Homo sapiens: one gene and its partners. The protein of the gene in region 2 interacts with the protein of the main gene of each other region in a pairwise test. Each region holds a gene or a part of one and is shown on either strand. Other genes may lie near its edges.

What was found. Proteins that work in one complex are often made in the same cells at the same time.
Region 1: the proteins of CREB3L1 (region 2) and SEC22A interact in binary tests that used the Homo sapiens proteins (3 or more experiments, as listed by UniProt).
Region 3: the proteins of CREB3L1 (region 2) and TMEM208 interact in binary tests that used the Homo sapiens proteins (3 or more experiments, as listed by UniProt).

The regions. Positions count from the first base shown.
Region 1 is NC_000003.12:123,239,943-123,246,942, forward strand, and holds part of SEC22A (vesicle-trafficking protein SEC22a), read left to right. Parts: intron 1-5,956; coding exon 5,957-6,072; intron 6,073-7,000. UniProt on the Homo sapiens protein: May be involved in vesicle transport between the ER and the Golgi complex.
Region 2 is NC_000011.10:46,280,541-46,287,686, reverse strand, and holds part of CREB3L1 (cyclic AMP-responsive element-binding protein 3-like protein 1), read right to left. Parts: intron 1-7,146.
Region 3 is NC_000016.10:67,222,147-67,229,778, forward strand, and holds TMEM208 (transmembrane protein 208), read left to right. Parts: upstream 1-4,983; 5' UTR 4,984-5,072; coding exon 5,073-5,078; intron 5,079-5,572; exon of another isoform or gene 5,573-5,689; coding exon 5,690-5,785; intron 5,786-6,208; coding exon 6,209-6,268; intron 6,269-6,348; coding exon 6,349-6,485; exon of another isoform or gene 6,486-6,511; intron 6,512-6,650; coding exon 6,651-6,735; intron 6,736-6,829; coding exon 6,830-6,967; 3' UTR 6,968-7,132; downstream 7,133-7,632. Other genes in the region: FHOD1 (FH1/FH2 domain-containing protein 1), read right to left, coding at 7,490-7,572. UniProt on the Homo sapiens protein: May function as a negative regulator of endoplasmic reticulum-stress induced autophagy.

The sequences.
Region 1 (7,000 bases), on a different chromosome or scaffold from region 2:
GCTAGTTTGAATAATTTCAATGGACTCTGGGGCATAGGTTCTATCTCTGGTTGTCTGACATGTGGCCCTGGGATGATTGGGATAGGGAAATAATGGCCCTGGCTGTGAGAGCCTTGTAGAGGAGTTGGTTGGTAGTGTGAGTCTGGATTGATTGGAATGCGTATGAAAGGTGGACTCAGACAAGTTGTTTGCCATCACTAGGAATTAGCTATCCCTGGGAGAGGCAGTTCTTCCATGGTCAGCAAGGCCCAAGAGGTCAAAGCATCAAAAATACAGAATAAAAAGACATGATTACTAAACACCCTTATCACAATATAGGACATTTCCATCTCCCCCGAAAAGTTTCTTTGTGTCCCTTTTCAGTCAATTTCCACCATCCTCTAGACAACGACTGTTTTTATTTTTTTCCACTTGAACTTTGTTTTGTTCCAGAACTTTATATAAAAGAAGACTACATTGTGTGACTATTGTGTTCAGCTTCTTTTGCACAGCATGATGTCATACATACATGTTGCCTGTCTCAGTAATTTGTTCCTTTTTATTCCTGAGCGGTATTCCATTGTATGAATGTACCACAATTTGTTTATTTATTCTCTTGCTGATGGACGTAAACTTGTTTCAGTTTTTGTTATTGCACATAAAGCTACGATGAACATTCATCCTTTTGTTGACATATATTTTCATTTCCCTTGAGTAAATATTAGGAGTGGAATTGATAGGTCAAAAGGTTGCCTGTTTAAGAAACTGCCAGTTTTCTGAAGTAGTTGTAAGATTTTACTTTCCCAACAAGCAATTTGTGAGCATTTTGATTACTCAACATCTTCACCGACATTTAGTGTTGTTAGTCTTTTTACTTTTATGTTGTGCTTTAAAAAAAAAACTTCACAAAACCCTAAATTTAGGGTTTAAACTGATAGAAACACTTCTGTCAGTTTCTTTGACACTTGTATATTTTTCATCTATTTTATCATTTTCTAGAAAATTTGTCAGTTGCCTGAAAATGCTGCTCTGTTTTGGCTGGTGCCCACAAGCCAAATAGATTTACTAATCTCTCTTTCTTACACACACACACACACACACACACACACACACACACACACATCCCCTTCATAATCCAACAGGTATTTATCATTTTTTTTCTCTAAAGTATTATGCTAAATTTTGTGGAGGCATTTTTTAGAAATACAGTAAACACATTAACTGTACTCAGAATGAGAAAGGGAAATACAATCCAATAAGTAAAACACAAAGTAGAATGTGATACATGCTCCAAAAGAGGTAAGAAGGAAGACTCAGGTCTTGGAGCCTTGAAGGATATGCATGATTTTTACAGGTGGTGATGATAAAGAAGGGCCTCACTGATGAAAAGAATAGTGTGTTTTTGTGCCAGACTGTTAGTCTCATTCAGTCACACTTCAGTAATAAATTAGGCTCATTTAGATGGAACTGACTTGAAATTTCTCTCTTATCTTCCACAGTCTGTTTCCCTAGGCATTGTGGGCATCTTTGAGATTTCGAATGGTACCATCTCTTTGAATCGTCATAAGGACTATTCTGGGACTTTGCTTCATCAATTATTTTTCCTTTTTCTTGATTCTTCTATTTCATCTTCACTGAATTATTTCATTCCACCTATGTATGTATTCAAGTCTTCCTCCCTCCCTCCAACACTGTAAGAGAAAAAAGAATTATTTTCTCAATCCTATTATCTCTGTTAAGCTTTCATCCTGTTTTTCTCTCCTTTAACTTCAGTAGTATTCACTTAATGCTTCCACCTCTTAACATCGCCAGTTGTTCAACCTCTTGCAATCTGAATTTGATAAGGAAAATGTGGTTCATATACACAATGGAGTACTGTTCATCCATGAAAAAGATGAGATCCAGTCATTCGCAACAGCATGGAGGGAACTGGAGATCATTAAGTAAAATAAGCCAGGCACAGAAAGACAAACATTGCATGTTCTCACTTATTTGTGAGATCTAAAAAGCCCTCAACCACTTTTCTGGAAAAAAAAAAAAAAATTTTAAGGAGAATCCTAGCATCTCCTGTTCAATAAGTCTAATACTTTTTACTTTAAGGTCAGATTTTTTTTGGCCTATCTATAGGCACTGTTAGCCATATCTTTCTTCTTGATGGTCTCTCCTTCCTAGGTTTCACTTGATTCTCCTGCATCTGCCTTCCCTGACTCTTCTTCCATCCCTTACTGACAGTGTTTACCAAGGATTTCCCTTGGCCTGCTTCTTTCTTTGACGCTCATTTAAACCTTTCCCTTCAGTTGCAGACCTCGTCTGCTTCTCCCAGCTATTCCATTCTTCAGTTGCTTGTTAAACACGGCCCACCATCACCTCAAATATGATGTTAAAATGTCCCCATTTTTTATCAAACTTAAGTTTCTTCCTGTGGATCTGTTGCTCAGTACTCTCATCTTTCCGATCACCTAGAGGTAAAACCTCAACATTTCTTTGAATTTTTTTCCCCCTTTTGTTTGCCACATCTAATTAGTTGCCAAGTCTAATAATTTTAACCTCCATGACATCTTACTTCTTTTTCCCCATTTCTTTTTTTTTTTTAATTTTAGCTTTATTCTTTAATGAACTCCCAAGCACTCAGATTCCCATTTCTACTGTGACTATTCTGATTCAGGCCCTGATTTCAGTCAGTCTTTTGCAGTGACTCTCCCACAAACTTCCTAATGTAGAACTGTAGAAAGAGCATGGGCTCTGCAGTCAGATAGACCTAAGTGCTAATTGTGAAGATGGCCCTTCTGGCTGTCTGACTTATAGAAAATAATTTAATCTTAATTGACAGATGAGAAAGTTTAGGCACAGAAAAGTTAGTCATTCCAGTTCAGTCACAGAGAAGTTAGTCATTTCTACCTCATGAAGTATGCCATTCTGAAGGGTAAATGAGACAATGGGTGCTTAGTGAGAAGGTACTCAGAAAAATATTATTTCTCCCTCCCTTACTTTTGATCTCTTTACAACCCATTAATAGATTAATCTTCTTTAAGTATAACCTTCATCATATGAGAATCTTGTTCTTCAGTGGTTCCCCATTGTCTAATTTTCCATAATTCTTAGCCTAGAATTGTATACTATCAATTTGTGTCCACCTCCCTTTCTGACCTTATTTCTCCCCACTTGTCACAAACATCGCTTTGAGCCAAACCAAACCACTAGCAATGCCCTATAGCAGAATGGCTGAGAACATGAATTCCAGAATCATCTAAATCCCAGTTCACGTACTTACTTTGTGCCCATGAGCAAATTATTTAATGTCCCTAAACCTTTCCTATTCTGGGAGGGGTGGGGAGGGGGCGGGGTGGGGCAGAAAACCAGGATAATTATAGTGCCTACTGCATTGGGTTGTTGGAAGGATACAGTGAGACCAAGTATATAAAGCACTTGGTGCCTGGCGTGTTGAGAGCAGTCACTGTTGGTAGAAGTAGTAGTTGTTGATGCTGTTGTTACTCGTTTCTCCCATTTCCATCTCCATCACATTCACATTCTTTTCTCTGCGTGGAATGCATTTCTTCCCCTTTGTACCTGACTACATTTTATCTATCTTCAAAGCTCTTTCCTGGTTCTAGACCACCCTCCCCCTACTTTATCTTTCCACTTCATCATTCCTTGCCTCTTTTAGCTTAGAATGCTTATTACTTTCATATACTTATCTGTTTTATCTCTTTTATAAAAGACTAGAAGTGCCTTGAGGGCAGAATATGTAATTCAATTTTTGTATCTTCGAAAGCATAGCATCTTACACAGAACCATGCCAGAAAGTATTTACTGAATAAATATATTAATTTACTGTAACCAATAGCTCTTTGGTTCCTTTGGTTCTAAGGGGTTTATTCTTACTTCTTTAGGAACTTTTGCAGAGTCTCCATAAACCATTGGTACATTTTCAGAAACATTTAATTTTGTTATCAACATGCCATCCTTGGGTTCAAGAAGACTAAAGAAAAGACTTTATAGGAGAAGGCAATAATAACAAAAGCAAAACAAAAACTGACCAGATGACACTGCTTTGGATTCAGCAAAATTATTGTTTTTCTACACTGCCTCTTATTTGTTATTGTTACAAACATTCTACACCAAATATTATAGTACCTAGAATGGTGCCAAATTAAGCATTTTTGGATAATAGTGGATCTAAAATCTGTTTTACTGAAGTAAAAAAAATAACAAATAGTTAATACATTAAAATGTGATTAAATATCTAGTTCAGTTTGTTAAAATGAGAAATTATTAAGAAGTGTCACCTTCTTATGTTGTGGGCAGATGGAGTATTCTCTTGATAACTTCTCAAGGAACAAGCCACAGAACCTGGGAAGTGGGTGGGGGCGGAAGTGGGGGAATCTCTAGAATTTCTTCCCCACAGTGATTTGGCACAACGCCAGCTGTCCTTCAGCAAAGGTGTACTGTGTTCTTGTTAAAGGAGACTTATGCTTTTTAAAGGCTTTTATGCCTTTAAATGTATAGACGAATTAGATAGATTTTTAAATCGTGAATTTTTTTTTCTTTACTGATATAACACTTGGAAGCAATATTGAATAGTGACATTTAATTTTCTGTTGTCATATTACAATATCAAGGAAATTGATTGAGAGCAGGCAGCTTGGGCACCAGAGAAGTTTAAGAAAATGTTATATAAGCACTTTCTGCTGAACTTGGGGAATAAATACTTTTTTGTGATATGTAGATTCTTGTGTTTTTATAACTGTTTAGGGAAGATGTTCTGCTATAATGGCTGAATATAAGTTGCAGAGATTTAAACCCGCCCTTATATTAATGTTCCACCTCATTAACTTAATTGTTAGGGCGTTTACACTTCAGTGATTTAAATAAAATACTCTAAATGTGGTTCTGTTGTCTTTCCCTCTGTCTCCTGTTTGAGGTCTAGATGATTATGTATTTAGTTATGTGTTTTCATGTAGACCCTGTTGTTAATTCTATTAAGCGTAAGATGATGATGAAGGGAAGCTATTGTATAACTTTTGTGCTGCTGCAGCCCTGGAAGATAAGGGAATGTATTTATGAAACTAAAATGGTCACTTATTCAGCTGGTGTTTTGTCATTTTTACCTTCCAGTGTTATTCAGAGGACCAGGAACTTCATAGCTATAAGACTCCATTCTGTTTTGGAGTTCAGATTGCTGATTATATATGAGCTTTCACATGTATCCAGTGATATTTATAGCCCTAGAACCCAGATAAGGCAAAGTTTTGCTTAAAAGTAAGCTATGTTTGTACTTTAAAATGTTTCCTAAGCATTTTCAGAAAAAGTAGGATTATGCAATGAATTTCCAAGCAAAGTCACCTTTACAAATACTTTCACCTACCTGCAAATAGTAGACATATTTATGCAGTAAGGTTTTTTCTAAATGATTTACTGCCGGTTGTGAGCATCCCTTAGCACTGTCTATCCCAAATGCAAGTTACATGTCTTTGTTAAAAACATAGAGAAAGGCCAGATGCAATGTCTCATGCCTGTAATACCAGCACTTTGGGAGGCCAAGGTCAGAGGATCACTTGAGGCCGGGAGTTCAAGACCAGCTTGGGCAACATAGTGAGACTCTGTCTCTATAAACAATTCAAGAAAAAATTAGCCAGGCATGGTGGCACGTGCCTGTAATCGTAGATAGTCGGGAATCTGAGGCACGAGGGTCGCTTGAGCCCTTGAGTTTGAGGCTTGTAGCGAGCTGTGATTGTGACCCTGTCTCAAAAAAAAAGGAAAAAGAGAAAAATAAGTTAATTTTTCAGGGAAATGAAGCTTTTATGTTGTCAAGCATTTTTCATTTTATAACAGTATTTAATTGTGAATATATGGTGTTAAATAATTCTATGAAGTATCTGCTTGACCCATTTAAGTTGAGCAGTGAATTTCTGTTTTACCTAAGTTCATCTTTGTGAGGTATTGGTGTTCATTTCTAACTATTTCTTTTATTTTCCAGCTCACCAGCGACTGGAACCAGCAACTCTGTCAGGGATTGTAGGATTTATCCTTAGTCTTTTATGTGGAGCTCTGAATTTAATTCGAGGCTTTCATGCTATAGAAAGTCTCCTGCAGGTACTGTGCTATTTTTGCAATTTCAGGTGACTGTGCCTCTTCATTCTACTGGTTACATAATTGATTTGAATTGGATTGGGTATTAGTATAATTTACAGTGCATACTCAAAATCTATGTTTTTTTATATCTGCTTTAGCCTCCTTCTAAAAACACTGGTTGGCTTCTTTGATTCCATTGGCACATGTTTATCATCTGCTCTTTAGGAGGCACTATTTATAGGCACCCTGGGGACCCCAAGATGTGTGTGACATAGGCCTTGCAGTCTCATAACTGAAAGTTGAACTGGGGAGGCAAGAAAGTAATTGCCAAATACACAGAGTTGGGAAGGGGGAGAGGTCAGTATAATCAGGATTGGAGAAGGAAGGTTTTGTGGAGGAGAGTTGAACTGGTCCTGGAAAGATCTGATCAGACAGAGAGCAGTGGAAGAATGAAGAGGGCACACGTGGGCTGTGTTTATTCCACTTCTGTGTATTCCCTACTTAGTTCATCTGCTTCTTTTTCTTTTTTTGTTAGTGGCTTCTTAAAACTTGAGCTTCCTAGAAAACCACAAATTTATTCAGATATTGCTAACTATTACATTTTCAAGTGGAGTTCCTTTCAGAAGCTATAGCTATCAGAATATACTAATTTTTTCTCTTATGCTTTTTGTAAACTTTTTGAAATTTTTTTTTAAGTTTAGCACATTTGAGACTGCACAGCTTTCCTTTCCCTTATTTCTATTCACTTTCTCTGAAGAACTCTTGACACTCTCACATTATGAATCAGTCCTCTTTTTTTGGTCAGCATTAAGTGCAGAATACCATTTGTAAAAATCCACTGAGCACACTTTATATTCTGTTTTTAAATTGCTGTTAGTTTGGGGAACCCTCAGAGGGTATCTTTCTGCATCTGTTTAGCCATGTAAAGCCAACAGCAGATGACATCACA
Region 2 (7,146 bases):
ATTATTATGTATTACATGCCTGTACCAAAATATCTCATGTGCCCCATAAATATCTAACCTACTATGTACCCACAAAAATTAAAAATTGTCCAGGTGTGGTGACTTATGCCTGTAATCTTAGCACTTTGGGAGCCAAGGAGGGAGGATCGCTTGAGCTCAGGAGTTCAAGACCAGCCTGGGCAACATGGCAAAAAAAACATCTTTACAAAAAATACAAAAAATTAGCCAGACATGGTGGTATGTCCCTGTAGTCCTAGCTACTCAGGGGTTTGAGGTGAGAGGATCACTTGAGTCCGGGAGGTTGAGGCTGCAGTGAACTGTGTTTGTGCCACTACACTCCAGCCTGGGCAACAGAGTGAGACCCTGTCTCAAAAAAAAATTTAAAAACCAAAACAATAAAAACAGCAGTGGCAACTATTGTTTATAGAGGGTTTATGGTGTACCAGGCCCTCTGCAAGAATTTCTAATGGAATTCTCTTAAGAACCCTATGTTTTACCATGAACCCTACTTTTGGATGAGGAAAATAAGCTTGGAGAGGTTAAAGCACCTGCCCAAGCTCACACAGGTGACAAGTGGGAGGCCCCAGGTCTAAGCAGTGCTGAAGACGTCCCGCCTCAGGCAAGGATCACTTCCCCAGCACTTGCCTCATCATCTGCCATCTGACCTGTGGACCCACTGTCTGCACACGTTGAGCCTGGGAGTACGCACCTGGGAAGTCTTGGGACTTTCCTGTTTAAAATCTCCCCAGAGTGGGGTGGATTCAGGGTCTACAGCTCACCTCTGTCCCAAACTCATGCAGCTTTGAGAGACCAAGATATTCAGAACCGAGTGTGTTTTCTTTTCTTTTTCTTTCTTCTTTCTTTCTTTTTCTTTTTTCTTTTTGTTTGTCTGTTTGTTTTTTGAGACAGAGTCTTGTTCTGTTGCCCAGGCTGGAGTGCAGTGGTTCAATCTCGGCTCACTGCAACCTCCGCCTCCTGGGTTCAAGCAGTTCTCCTGCCTCAGCCTCCTGAGTAGCTGGGATTACAGGCTCCCGCCACCACGCCTGGCTAATTTTTGTATTTTTAGTAGAGACGGGGTTTCACCATGTTGGCCAGGCTGGTCTCAAACTACTGACCCGCCTCAGCCTCCCAAAGTGCTGGGATTACAGGCATGAGCCACCATGCCCGGCCCTGAGTCTGATTCTTAAGCTGGGTAAGTTTCCATGTATTAATTTTATTATACTTTATAACTGATAGATATACAGTCTATATATTCTACCAGTGCACAAGATATCATAATAGAAAAGGCCATGATGATAAAGTGAAAGGGAGAGATGGCATTTATGCTAACATTCACGATTTGAGTAATCAAATGAGTGAACGAATGAAGCAATCTACTTTAAAAAAGAGGGCCATCAAAGCTGGAAGTGTAGAAGTGTCCTTTCTTTTACTATCTATCCACCCACCTATTCATTCCTCTATCGTCCCCACCCTACTCCATCCTGCCTTCCTTCCATCCATCCAATAAATAAACATTTCCTGAGCACTCAGTCATTATAGCTGTACCTAGGGAATAGCCGCAAATAATTGACTGACACACCCTGCTCTCAAGGAGCCCTCAGTTTAGTTCAGAAATGAGGAGGCCAAGGCCCAGAAAGGGAAAGTGATTTGCCCAGGGTCACACAGCAAGTGAGGGAAATGAGGTAAAGAAGGGTGAGGGTATTCCAGGTGGAGGGGAACCCATGGGCAAAGGCTCAGACCTGTCTGCCTCCAAAGCGAGCCCCTGTCAATCACTGCCTGAAACCCGCCTCCTGGCTCTCCATGAAGGCCTGAAGAGCCTGCCTCACTCCATCGCTACTTTCATTTTTGTTATTCTTTTGGAAGGGGAGGAGGAGCCAGTGGCTGCTGCTGTCCAGCTGTTATGTCGGACCGCACATCCCAGCCCAGATGTGTCAAACTCTCTGTGATGGGTGAAGTGGCTTCTGGGCCACGAGCCACGAGCCAACGGCCAAGGAAGCGGCAGTGAAGGCTCTGTCCCAGGGGAATTAGGGGAGGAGGCACACTGAACCCGGCGGCAGGGAAGCCCATGGTTGCTCCAGCTATCAAACTGGCCTTGTAGACAATATGGTGTGTCTAGGTGGTGGGGATCAAGATCTTTGACATTCCAAAGAAATCAATACCTTTGACATATTTCCTCTGAGGGTCAGAGTCCTGGGGCATTTCCTGCCTCTCCCAGCTTCTCCTGAACCAGACAATCCCACCCCCACACATTCCCCAATCCTGGTCCAGGGTCCTGCCATTCAGTCTGGCTTCCCCAGGGCTGCTCAAGAGGGTTACACAGAGTTCCAGCTCACAGTCTTGACTTAACTCCACCCAAATATTCCTCCTCCATCCTGCCCCCAGGAGTGCTGAGACTTCCAGAGAAACAGCCTGTTCTCCAGCATCTGGAGCTGGTTTCTTGAGGGAGGTTCAAGGGCAAGCCAGGTTCCAGAGAGAGATGCTCCAGGAGGGCCTCGGTACCAGGACTCGCACGAGGCACATGATACAGGGAGAAGACACAAAACAGGGATGTCCTTTATGCTCCCCTCTCCTGGTGCAGTAGCCAGGCCAGGCCAGGGCAGACAGAAACAGAGTCTCCTGAGGAGTCCTGGGAGCTGCAGAGAGCAAAGATCCAAGTCCCCAGAAGGGCTGGGGAACAGCATCCTGGGGGTGAATCTGATAGGGTGTGAAATGGGATGTGGGAGCTTATTCAGGGGATCTGGTTTTGCCCATAAAGCTCTAGGCATCCAAGGTGCCCTAAGGATGGGAGTGGGTGAGGATGAAGACAGGGACCCTGTGATATGAAAGATCCTGAATTTTCCTTGCTCTAGAGGGGAAATCTCAAACTAGAACAATGAGAGAACTTGCTTGTAGCTTCTTCTTGCTCCCCTCTTTGACTCTCCATAGGACTCCTGCCCTTGAGCAGAGTGCACAATGGATAATAATGCCTATACGTGTTCAGTAAAAGGAACATGGCCCCAGTCCCTGTGGAAATGCCTTTTTTTTTTTTTTTGGAGATGGAGTTTTGCCCTTGTTGCCCAGACTGGAGTGCAATGGTGCGATCTTGGCTCACTGCAATCTCCACCTCCTGGGTTCAAGCGATTCTCCTGGCTCAGCCTCCCAAGTAGCTGGGATTACAGGCACATGCCACCATGCCTGGCTAATTTTTTTGGTATTTTTAGTAGAGATGGGGTTTCACCATGTTGGTCAGGCTGGTCTCAAACTCCTGAACTCAGGTGATCCACCTGCCTCAGCCTCCCAAAGTGTTGGTATTATGGGCATGAGCTACCATGCCTGGCCAGAAAAGCCTTCTAATAACTCCTTTGCCACTAAGGAAGAGGGAAATTGGGGCAGCATGTGCAGAGATCACCTTCTGAGAAAGCTTTCATGACCTGTAGCCTGGCTCAGCCTCCTGCCATGCTCTGCTCCATCATGGCGCCCACCATGGTGTTGATACTGCCTATTTCCCTCTCTGTCTCTCTCATTCGTCCGCGATTGACTGGAGGGTCAAGTGTGTTTTCTTCATCTGGGTTACCCTGGCACCAGCATAGATGTTCCTTCAGTGCCCAGTTGCTGAAGGAATGGACATGTGTATTAATGAATGAGCAAGTGAATTCCCAGCTGGTCCAGGGAAGCCGGAGGGACCTCACAACATATCGGGGCACAGACAGCACTTCTGTGGGACCCAGCATCCCCACCACCCTAAGGGATGGCCAGTCCAGGATCCTGAAAACCCCAGGATCCCTTCAGGAATCATAAGTACACCTCTTGAACACTTAGATCTGATTTTTTGGGTCTTGCTCTGTTGCCCAGGCTGGAGTGCAGTGGCGTGATAATAGCTCACTGCAGCCTTGAACTCCTGGGCTCAAGTGATCATCCCACATCAGTCTCCTAAGCAGCCAGGACTTCAGGTATGTGCCACCATGCCTGGATAATTTATTTTTTATTTTTTGTAGAGACGGAGTCTTTCTGTGTTGCCCAGGCTGGTCTCAAACTCTTGGCCTCAAGTGATCCCCCTGCCTCCGCCTCCCAAAGTACTGGAATTACAGGTGTGAGCCACCACATCCAGCCTGGGATTTTTTTAAAACAATTTTTCCCTTCCCTTACAAGGATTGCCCCAGTCTAAAGTAATTTTCTCTACAAATATAGTAAGTCCTTGAAATAGAGCAAAGTTCACTACAATGTGACCCAAACTTGACTTCTGTTCTATGCTCAGGCCCCTTCTCAAATAAAAGTGAGCAAAACTCCATTCTCTATGGGGCTGGTAAAAAAAAGTGACTGCCTCATGCTCCTGTGGTACTCTTTCTGTTTGGTCTGCTTTGTGCAGTAAGGTGTCACAATTTTTACTTTCCTGCTTTTTGTGATAGTACAGACCATCTGAAAAATACTGTTTTTCGTTAATTCTACAAAAATATTACTCCACATTTTATGTAATTGGAAAATTTATTTTTAAATTTGTATTATTATTATTACTTTTAGAGACAGGGTCTGGCTTTGTTGCCCAGGCTGGAGTGCAGTGATGCCATTATGGCTCACTGCAGTCCCAACCTCCCCAGCCCAAGTGATCCTCCCTCCTCAGCCTCCTAAGTGGCTGGGACCACAGGCATATGCCACCATGCCCGGCTCATTTTTTTTTTATTTTTTGTAGAGACGAGGTCTCCCTATGTTGCCCAGACTGGTCTTGAACTCCTGGGCTCAAGCAATCCTCCTACCTTGGTCTCCCAAAGCATTGAGATTACAAGCATGAGTCACCGCAAAGGAACATAATTGGAAATTTTTGACTGGGCATATTTATTGCATTATTGTAGAATTTTACTACATTGAGCATCTATTTTGTCCCATGTGACTGTGCTAGGTTTATGTCAATGCACAAAACTGATATGGACTCTCCTCTTATGGAACTTACTTTCTCGTGGAGGAAATAGACAATAGGCCATTAAAATAATTGCAAACTGGGTTAAGGGCTAGAAGATATCAAAAGACTAAAACAGAAAAGAACAGGGGGGTCCCACTTTAGGTAGTCAGGGAGCGTTCCCTAAGGAGGCAATATTTGAGCTGGGATCAGAAGGCTGAGATGGACAGACTGGGGGAAAAGCAGTCCAGATGACAGGAACAGCATGTGCAAGGGCTCTGAGGCAGGGCTGGAAAAGGCTTAGTCTTAAATTGGGTGAGTATGGATCCAGGAGTCCTAGAGCAATCTGAAGAAGAAACTGGGGAAAACGGAAGCCCTAGAGACAGTGCTCAAGAGTGACACCTGAGCCACAAGTTCAAATCCCCTGTGGGTCAGCCAGCTGTAGACTATTCTAGACCAGGGGCTGCAGAGGCCTGTGCAGTAGGGGGATGGCTCAAGGTAATGAGAACTCATTAAAAACCATGGAGAGCCCTTCCTGGACCCCAGAGACAGTGCAGGGTCTGCAGGACCTCGATGGCTGCAAATAGATGGGCTTAAGGACACTTTTCCCTCTTCTCTAAGAATGTGGGGTCTGGTTTGGGCCCCTTTTTCTTCATCCATCCATCCATTCATTCATCCATCCATCGATTTATTCATTCATCAACGGTTGTTAGGCACTGGGATACAGCAGTGAACAAGACAGACCAAGCCCCTGACTCAAGGAACTGTTCCCTCAACACTGGGGGAAGCAAAACCCAAATCAAACCTCTGCTCAAAACGAACTTAATGTTTTGATAGAGTAGGTATCAGAGGTCTCCTTTCTGAATAGGCACCCTGAGATTTGGGCTCCTCCAGTAGGTTTTTCATTAGATCTTTTCTAGCAGATTGCACTCTGAGACCAGAGTGCCTTAGCACTTCTGTCCTCTTTCCTGTTGGTGAGAACTTAAACAGAAACACACACAAATCTCCCCTTTTAAGGACTGTTAAAGGCCCACCCACAGACATAGGAACACCCAAACACACATACTTCTCTAATCTCCCTAAATCTCCCGAAGGCTGGGGGTGGGGGTGCCTCTCTGCTTCCCAGTTAGCTCAGGAGAAGCCAGGCTAGGCGTGTGGGGAGTAGCGATCAGCCTTAGCCCCCACCGCCTCCCCGCAATGCTGGGCTGGTCCCTGGGTCCCCGTCACTCCCACACCTGGCCTCCCCAGCTGCAGGGAGTAAACGGGTGTGCTGGGCAAACATCCTTGCAGCTTCCTGCTGCTCCCCTCTGAGAAAACAGACCTTTTCTTCCTCCTCCTTCTCCTCCCCACACCCTCCCAGCTGGGGCTTCTCTGGGATCCCAAGCCAGTTCCCTCTAGAGAAGCCAGACATCCCTTCCCCTTAGCCAGAGGAAGGAGGGGACAGCACACAGACCTAGTGTTTCCATCTGGAGAAACGACCTGCTCTCCCTCTGGTCCTTTATCCCAGTTCTTGGAGCCCAGACCCTCTCTCTCATACTGGCCAAGGGGCTGAAGGACCACAGAGTACAGTGGCTCAAGGGTGGCCACATCAGAAACCATGGGAGAGCGGGAGGGGCAGGGAGGAGATGCCCCCACATGGGACAGGAAGGGCAGCCCCCTTCTGAGGATCTCTGAGAATCGCATAAACAGAATTGCAGCAACATGAAGGTATCCTCATAGAAAGAAAAATAAGGCAGCCCAGCCACCTCCAAACACACTTGTCTTGACTTTGTGTACTCACTCTCCTGTCTGTCCAAGTGCATGCGTATTTCTTGCATAGTTGTTTTCAGGGTGAGCATACATTTTGCATTTTGCACAGAGCAACAGAGCACACATGATTTCCACATGATTTATGGCCCGTATCTGGATTTTTAAGGAGGATAGCGAATATTCTGCTCTCCATTTTCCAGACTGAGAGGCACACAGACGCCATCCCTACCCATCCTTAACCCTGGAAACATTTTCCTATCCTCATGCAGAATGAAGAAGTTGGGGGAAGGGTTGGAATGGGATCTCAGCTGGAAAGAACCTCGGATATGGAGATGGAGACCCCAGAGAAGGAAAGTGACTTGCTATGTTCACACAGCAACTCGTAGCTGAGCAATTCTCACTATCACGCCCATCCAGTCTCTATGGATCAAGCCAACGATGAACGTTACATGCCAGGCATTGTGCTACATAACCTTCACTTTAATTTTCTCTCGAAATGCTTACAGTAATGCTATAGTTCTAATATT
Region 3 (7,632 bases), on a different chromosome or scaffold from region 2:
AAAAAATAAATAAATAGAAATAAAAAAAGAAGCGCGGCACAGTGGCTCACGCCTGTAATCCCAGCACTTTGGGAGGCCAAGTGGGTGCAGATCACTTGAGGTCAGGAGTTCGAGACCAGCCTGGCCAACATGGCGACACCCCATCTCTACTAAAAATACAAAAATTAGTCAAGTGTGGTGGCACACACCTGCAATTCTGGCTACTTGAGAGGCTGAGGCAGGAGAATTGCTGAGGCGGAGGTTGCAGTGAGCCGAGATTGCGCCATTGCACTCCAGCCTGGGTGACAGAGCAAGACTCCATCTAAAAAAAAAAAAAAAAAATTAGCTGGGCATGGTGGCGTGTGTCTGTAATCCCAGCTACTTGGGAGGCTGAGGCAGGAGAACTGCTTGAACCCAGGAGGCAGAGCTTGCAGTGAGCCGAGATAGCGCCACTGCACTCTAGCCTGGGCGACAGAGCAAGACTCTTATCTCAAAAAAAAAAAAAAAAAAAAAAAGAAAAAGAAAAAGTCCATACAAATGGAATAGAAAAATACTAAGACCTTAATAGTTAAATGGATACAGAACATGAATAAACAAAAGGGGGAAATATGAAGGGTGAACTAATGAGAAAAACAGTGCAACCTCACTAATAAACAAATCAAAATTAAAACAATGAGCCATCACTGCCTGCCTTTCAAACTAGCCCAGATGTCTGCATTCACCTCCTGGCTGGCCTCCTCCCTATGCTGTCTCACTCTCCCAGTCCACTCTGCACTGCAGAGTTCTAATACAAATCACGCTGTGTCACTTGCCTGCCTAATGGGCTCCTTGATGGTCACCAGGAGAAAGCCAAACTCTGCTGCCTGGCACATCTGCCAGCTTGCAGCCTGATGCCATTCTAGCCTCGCCTCCTGCCATGTCTCACTTAGTTCCAGCCAAATGGAACTTGTGTGATTGGTTCCACACCATGGTGCCTTCACTTATGCTATTACTGATCCCAGAAGCCCAACCTTTCTTCTCATCCTGTTCCTTCAGGAAGCCTTCCCTGACACCACCAGTCTCCTCTGGATGTCCTTCTTCATGTTCCGTCAAACTCTTTTTTTTTGAGACAGAGTCTCGCTCTGTTGCCCAGGCTGGGGTGCAGTGGCGCGATCTCGGCTCACTGCCATCTCTGCCTCCCGGGTTCAAGCGATTCTCCTGCCTCAGCCTCCAAGTAGCTGGAACTACAGGTGCACACCACGCCACCACACCCAGCTAATTTTTGTAATTTTAGTAGAGACAGGGTTTCACCATATTGGTCAGGCTGGTCTCGAGCTCCTGACCTCAGGTGATCTACCCGCCTTGGCCTCCCAAAGTGCTGGGATTACAGGCGTGAGCCACTGCGCCCGGCTGTCCCCGTCGAACTCTTTCTTCCCAGTGTCACAGCGCTGAGCACACGATAGCATGATCATTCATATTACTCGTCTTTCTCCTTCACTGGAATGTGAGCTCCTTAGGGAACTATGTCTTATTTATCTGTATAGCCCCAGCACTGTACCCAGAGCCAAGTATGTATGAATGTATGTATATATGTGTATGTATGAGCATATGAATGGATGGATGGATGGATGGATAGATGGATGGAGATACATGAGCAGGGCCACGAGTAAGCTGAAGTAAGAAACACCTGAGGATGGGACGGGGGAGGGTGGGTGCCTTACCTCCCGAAGGGCATTCTGGGCAGCACGGTACCAAGCCCAACTCACGAGGGAGGCCTCTTTCTGATCTGACAGAGGCAGGAAGCTCAGAATATATGTGAGCATCTGAGGGAAAAAGACAGGGCATTGGGGACTGTTAGAGGTGGGAGGTCTTTGGAACCCACTCCAGCTGACAGCACCATGGGTCTGAGGGCACCAGAGCCCTGGCTTCTACTTTATCTTGGATGTGAAGCTTCACGAAGCATTCACTTCCCCGCTCCAGGCTTCAGGTATCTTTCCTGTAAACAAACCTTTCCTGAGCTGGGTGCAGGCTTGCACTGACTGATAAGAATCAAACTTCCTGCCTAGCTGGGTAGAAAAAGCCTGGGCATTGAGGCCAGATAAACCTAGTTCAAATCTCTACTCTGCCAACTGACCTCTCGAACTTTGTTTTCCTTATCTGTGAAATTGCAATTGTAGTGAGATTTAAATGGATTATTGTGAGAATTAAAGAACACAGCCAAGTGTCTTGCATAGGACCTAGAGCACAGCAGGCCAGGTGTGCTCACTCTGGTCCTCAGGAAGTCATGCTTGGTCCTCCTGCCCTCATGGCTCAGGCTCTGGGACCCTGCTGTTTTTCTGTCTTCTTCACTGCCACCTTGCCCTCTCCACTGGTTGTTAAGATGCGCTCCCAGCAAGACCTAGCCTGGGAGGCTCAGGCCCTTCCCCCCACCTAGGGGGTGGTGAGGTTAGAGGTCCTAAATGGGACTGGGGAAGGGGTTACCAGTGAGGCCTAGAATGATTTGATATTAACTCTTCTTTTCTTCTGGAATCTTCCTCCCTGCATCCCAATTGTCTCGTTTTTGGATTCTTCTGTGGCTCCCAGGGCTCAGACCTGGGTCTTTTGGTTTTCTGTTTACCAACACAGGAATAACCAACAATTCAATATTCCCATATTGTCCTATTATCCAAGTGCTAGTCCATATTGCCAACTGTCCATGCAAATGTTTAGCCATCACTTTAATCTCAACCAAAACTCATGTTCTACCCTCAGCCCAAAACAGCCTCTCCTCCCAAATTCCCCTTTCAATGCCAACAGTGCATCTACCTGATAACACTTTCAACTATTCAAACCATTCTGTCCCTTCCTCCCAGATACAGGTGTAATGCACAGGCTTTAGGCCAGGCTAACCTAAACTCATTCAAATTCCAGCTCCACTACTTCCACATATACTGATGTGTGACCTTAAACAAGGTACTTGACCTCTGGGAGTTTCAGTTTCCATATCTATAAAATAGGGATACTTTAAAAAAATCTAGATCATAGCCTCATGGGGATTAAATTTTACATATATATAGTGTGTGTGTGACAACTAGATGTTCCATAAATGGTTGCTGGATTGCTGTTACTAAAATTTCTACCTCTGCAACTTCCCCACCTCAGTAGCTCAGATTTCTACCACCCCAAACCTGGATTCCTTCCACAATCTCCCACCTGAACTCTTTGCCTCCAAGTTCATCCTTGCTAATACATTATGCACACTGTCACAAGGTTAATTTTTCCTATAAAACAGTTTTCAGTTTCAGCTCACCCCTGCTGTAAAACTTCAGGGTTCACAGTACTCTCAGGACAGTCTCCACTCCTGGATCAGCACTGCCAGGCCTCTGTGCCTGATTGGACTCGCTGGTCCCCAAACTTCCCCAGTCCAGTCTCCCCATTGCCCTACGCACACAGCATGTCTATTTCCTTTTGCCTATGCGGGCCTTTTCCCTGGGATCCCCTTCTTGAAGCTTAACTTCACCAACCCATTGTGATCTCTCCTTCCTTTCTCAGATGCCAAGCACGCAGGCACAGTGCTCAGCCAGTGCTTACTGGATTAAATTAAGGTTGGACAGTCCAGTCCTCTACCTCTATTTTCACCAAGAGTATGCTCAGGGAAGGGGTCGGGGAAATAAAGCAGTCATTACTGAGAGGACAATGACTGGCAGAATAGACTTCTGGGCCAGGAAGGGAGGCATAGGGAAGACAGTATTGATGGGGACTGGGACTGACCAAGTCCCAATCCCTCCAGGGAGGCACGGAAGCCTGTTTGAGCTGAGTTAAGACAGTGGCCATCCTGTCTTCTGGGGCTAAGCAGCCAGCCCAAGAGCAAAGGGAGAGGGGAACAAACCTGTCATCCCTTGGGGTGAGTCGGGAAGGGACACAATTCATTGACCTAAGAAGAGGGTGGCCTTTCTAGAGGGACAAGAGGAGGCAGTGATGAGGATGGAGTGACCATCCCATGAGTCCCATCTCAAGGGGGCTACTGGAGATAATGATTGGTCACTCATGGGGTCTATGGGGATGGAAATAGATAGCCCCTAAAGCTAAGGGGGAAAGGGATAGCACTGCAAGCTCAATAGGGGTGGGAACAGGCCTATTTTTGCTAAGGACAGGAGCATCATTCCAGGACCGATGGGAAAGGGTGGCCTGTTTCCCATGGGCAGAGAGAGGGGGCTGCCAACCCTCAGGACAAAAGAGATGGAGAAGCCATTCCAACAGGCCACTGAAGACAAAACCTGTTATCTCCCTGGCAGATGGGGCAGAGTGGTCTTGCCCCTGGCTAAGGGGAAGGAGCAAACATCCCACGGAGTGAAAGAGGTAAGGGCGGCCATCACTAGGGGCCTAGGAATGGGGAACAGGCCTATCCTTGTTAAAGGAACTCAGAGATCATTGCAGTTGATGGGGAGGGAGCAGTCTGTTTCCCACTGCCAGGGAGAAGGGGCGGCCGTCTCTGTAGGAAATGGAGAGATCATCCCAAGGGACCAATGGGGATAAGATCAGTTACCCTTCGGGACGATGAGATGGAGCGGACATCTTCCAGAACTGAGCGGGGAGGAGACAGCCACTTCAAGGGAAGGGGATGGGCAGAGGGCCTGTTCTCGCGGAGATGACAGGGCAGCTATCTTCTGGGGCCGATAGGGAAGGGGAGGACGGTCCCCCAAGCTAAAGGGACAGAGTGGCCCAAAGGAGGAACCGTTACCCAGAGCTAGAAGGTCCCGGGATCGGGAGGGCGGGTCGTTTCCGCCAGGCTGGAGGGGCCGGGCTAGCTATCTGACAGCCCCTCCCCAAAGCTCAGGACCGCGAGGGCGGGGCCTGTCCAGAGCTAGGCCTGAGGGCGGCTTCCTCTCACCTCCAGGGGCAGCGACTCCGCCATCGCATCCCTGCCGCCTCCGCCCCCACTGCGCAAGGCTTTCTGGGAAATGTAGTCTCGCCTCTTTGGGGCGGGGCTTGGGAAGGAAGTGAGACCTATTTCCGTCGCAAAAGCTGACGACTTCGGTCTGCGCCGGAAGTGCATGAGCTGCCGATGTGGTGCTTAGTGATTGCGGTTTCGGTCGCTCTCCCGTGTTTCCCGGGCTGGGTATTTGCCTCGCACCATGGCGGTAAGGAGGATGGATAGGGCGGGGTCCGCACCAGCAAAGCTCTCCAGGGGCTGTGAGAGTGAAAACTGAGAAAGAACATTAAGGGATATGGGGTGGGCCAGAGCGGGGCGCCATCCCTGGCCAGACCGTGCTAGAGCTGGGCTGGGGGGATGGCGGCGCAGGACCATACCAGGACTAGTGCCAGAGCGGGGTGGGCATCAGTACCAGGGCAGGCCAGAGATCTAAGTGACCTGAGGTGGGGGTTAACCCAGATCGGGACTACGCCAGCGGAGGCCTGAGAGAGGCACCATTCAACTCCGCTCAGGAGTACCCTTGGAAGAGTCGTTAGCCTAAAGCCAGACTACCACGGGATCCAGAGGCGGTATTAGCTTAGGATTGAATTGTTCCAGGGCGAGCAAGAGGCGATTGATCCTAGCTGCGGGTGCTGGAGAGATGGCGTCAGCCCTAGGCAGAATGGACTGGAGGATGGGTGGACATCCCAGGGATTTTGCTAGGTTTCTGCACTACGGGGACCTGGCTGAGTTGCGGATGGAGCTCTATAGCTCACCAGGCTGGTGGGGAGAATGAGGAGGACCGTGGCCTCCTGACGGCATCTCATCATTCCTCTGCAGCCCAAGGGCAAAGTGGGCACGAGAGGGAAGAAGCAGATATTTGAAGAGAACAGAGAGACTCTGAAGTTCTACCTGCGGATCATACTGGGGGCCAATGTAAGTGCCTACCTCCTTGCTTCTATGCCCACTTATAGTCAGTTCCCTAGTCCTCAGCCCTGCTTGGTGACGAGGAGTGGTACCCGAAAAAGCTCTAGAAGAGAGCTCCAGTCAAAAAGAAATGAGAGATCTGGGCACAGAGAAAGTGCTAACTAGTAAAACACAAAGAAAATGAAGGCGTGAGTCGTAGCTGAATTTGAGAGCTCTTCCTACCTCCAAGTACACAAAGGCTTCTTTCCTGGGCTGAGTTGGGTGTCAGAGGAGAGTGGGTATTTGGGATTCAGGGAGCAGGGCCCTTTCTTCAACCCTGTAAGAACAACCTTGCTCCTCCCACAGCCTGGCCTAATTCTTGGTCAGAGTTGAGGGAGACCCATGGTTTGGAGGTAACTTCTGACCCCAACCTGATCCTGTGATTGCTTGCAGGCCATTTACTGCCTTGTGACGTTGGTCTTCTTTTACTCATCTGCCTCATTTTGGGCCTGGGTAAGTATCTCCATCCTGGGAGGTGGATGAGTGCGTAGGGTCAGTGGCTGGCCTTTGATACCCTCATTCTTGCTCTGCAGTTGGCCCTGGGCTTTAGTCTGGCAGTGTATGGGGCCAGCTACCACTCTATGAGCTCGATGGCACGAGCAGCGTTCTCTGAGGATGGGGCCCTGATGGATGGTGGCATGGACCTCAACATGGAGCAGGGCATGGCAGAGTGAGTGTCCCCCACCGCCAGCCCAGGTGAGCGGCCCCAGGGCTGGGGCCCAGATAGCCCAAGAAGCACAGCTACTTGTAACTTGAAAAGGGTGGAAGGGAGTTGCAACTTGAAAAGGGTGGAAGGGCCCATATGCTGTCTTTCCAGCTTTATTTCTATCCACAGGCACCTTAAGGATGTGATCCTACTGACAGCCATCGTGCAGGTGCTCAGCTGCTTCTCTCTCTATGTCTGGTCCTTCTGGCTTCTGGTATGTGGGCTGGGGGCGCTCCCAAGAAGGGGCATCTAACCCTCCCCATCTTTTATTCCCTGCATCTTGCTTCAAGTTACCGTTTCTCTTGTAGGCTCCAGGCCGGGCCCTTTACCTCCTGTGGGTGAATGTGCTGGGCCCCTGGTTCACTGCAGACAGTGGCACCCCAGCACCAGAGCACAATGAGAAACGGCAGCGCCGACAGGAGCGGCGGCAGATGAAGCGGTTATAGCCATTGACATTGTGGCCACAGGCCACTGGCCCTGGGTGGCTCTGTCAGGGTGCACAGCCCCTCATGCCTGGAGCAATGAGGGTCTAGTCCAGGGGCCAAAAGCAGTCTGAGGTATTGGGTATACTTATACTCTATAGGGTCGTTGAATAAATGGCTTAGAATGTGGCTGATGGCTGTGTGGGTGATGAGGGATGAGGCAGGAAAAGCTGGTCCTATGGGATTTCCCTCCTGCTACAAACCCAGCCTGGTGGGGACCCTGAAAGAAGAGAAACCTGTTGGATTAGCTAAGAAAATTTTATTTTGCTCCGTGCGTTCAAGGAGCTCACACACATGCACATGCATATGCATGCACACACACACATACACACACACTCACATGCATACACACACGGCTAATACTGCTCAAGGCATGGCTCCTGGGCACAGAGTTCTGGGGCCAGAATTCTGCTCTGGGCCCTCCTCACTCTGTCATCTCCTGCACTGCAGTCCAGGGTCCAGATAGATTTCCGGGATACAGCACCTTCACACCTCCAGGCCAGGACCCTTGCTTAGTCCCAGTGCCTGCACCAGGTCATCTCCGAGCCCACTCTTCAACGTCCTTCTCACTGCAGGGACAGAGCAGGGTTGGAGGGGGTTGATGGGGTTCAGGTGGGCAGTGGGATTGT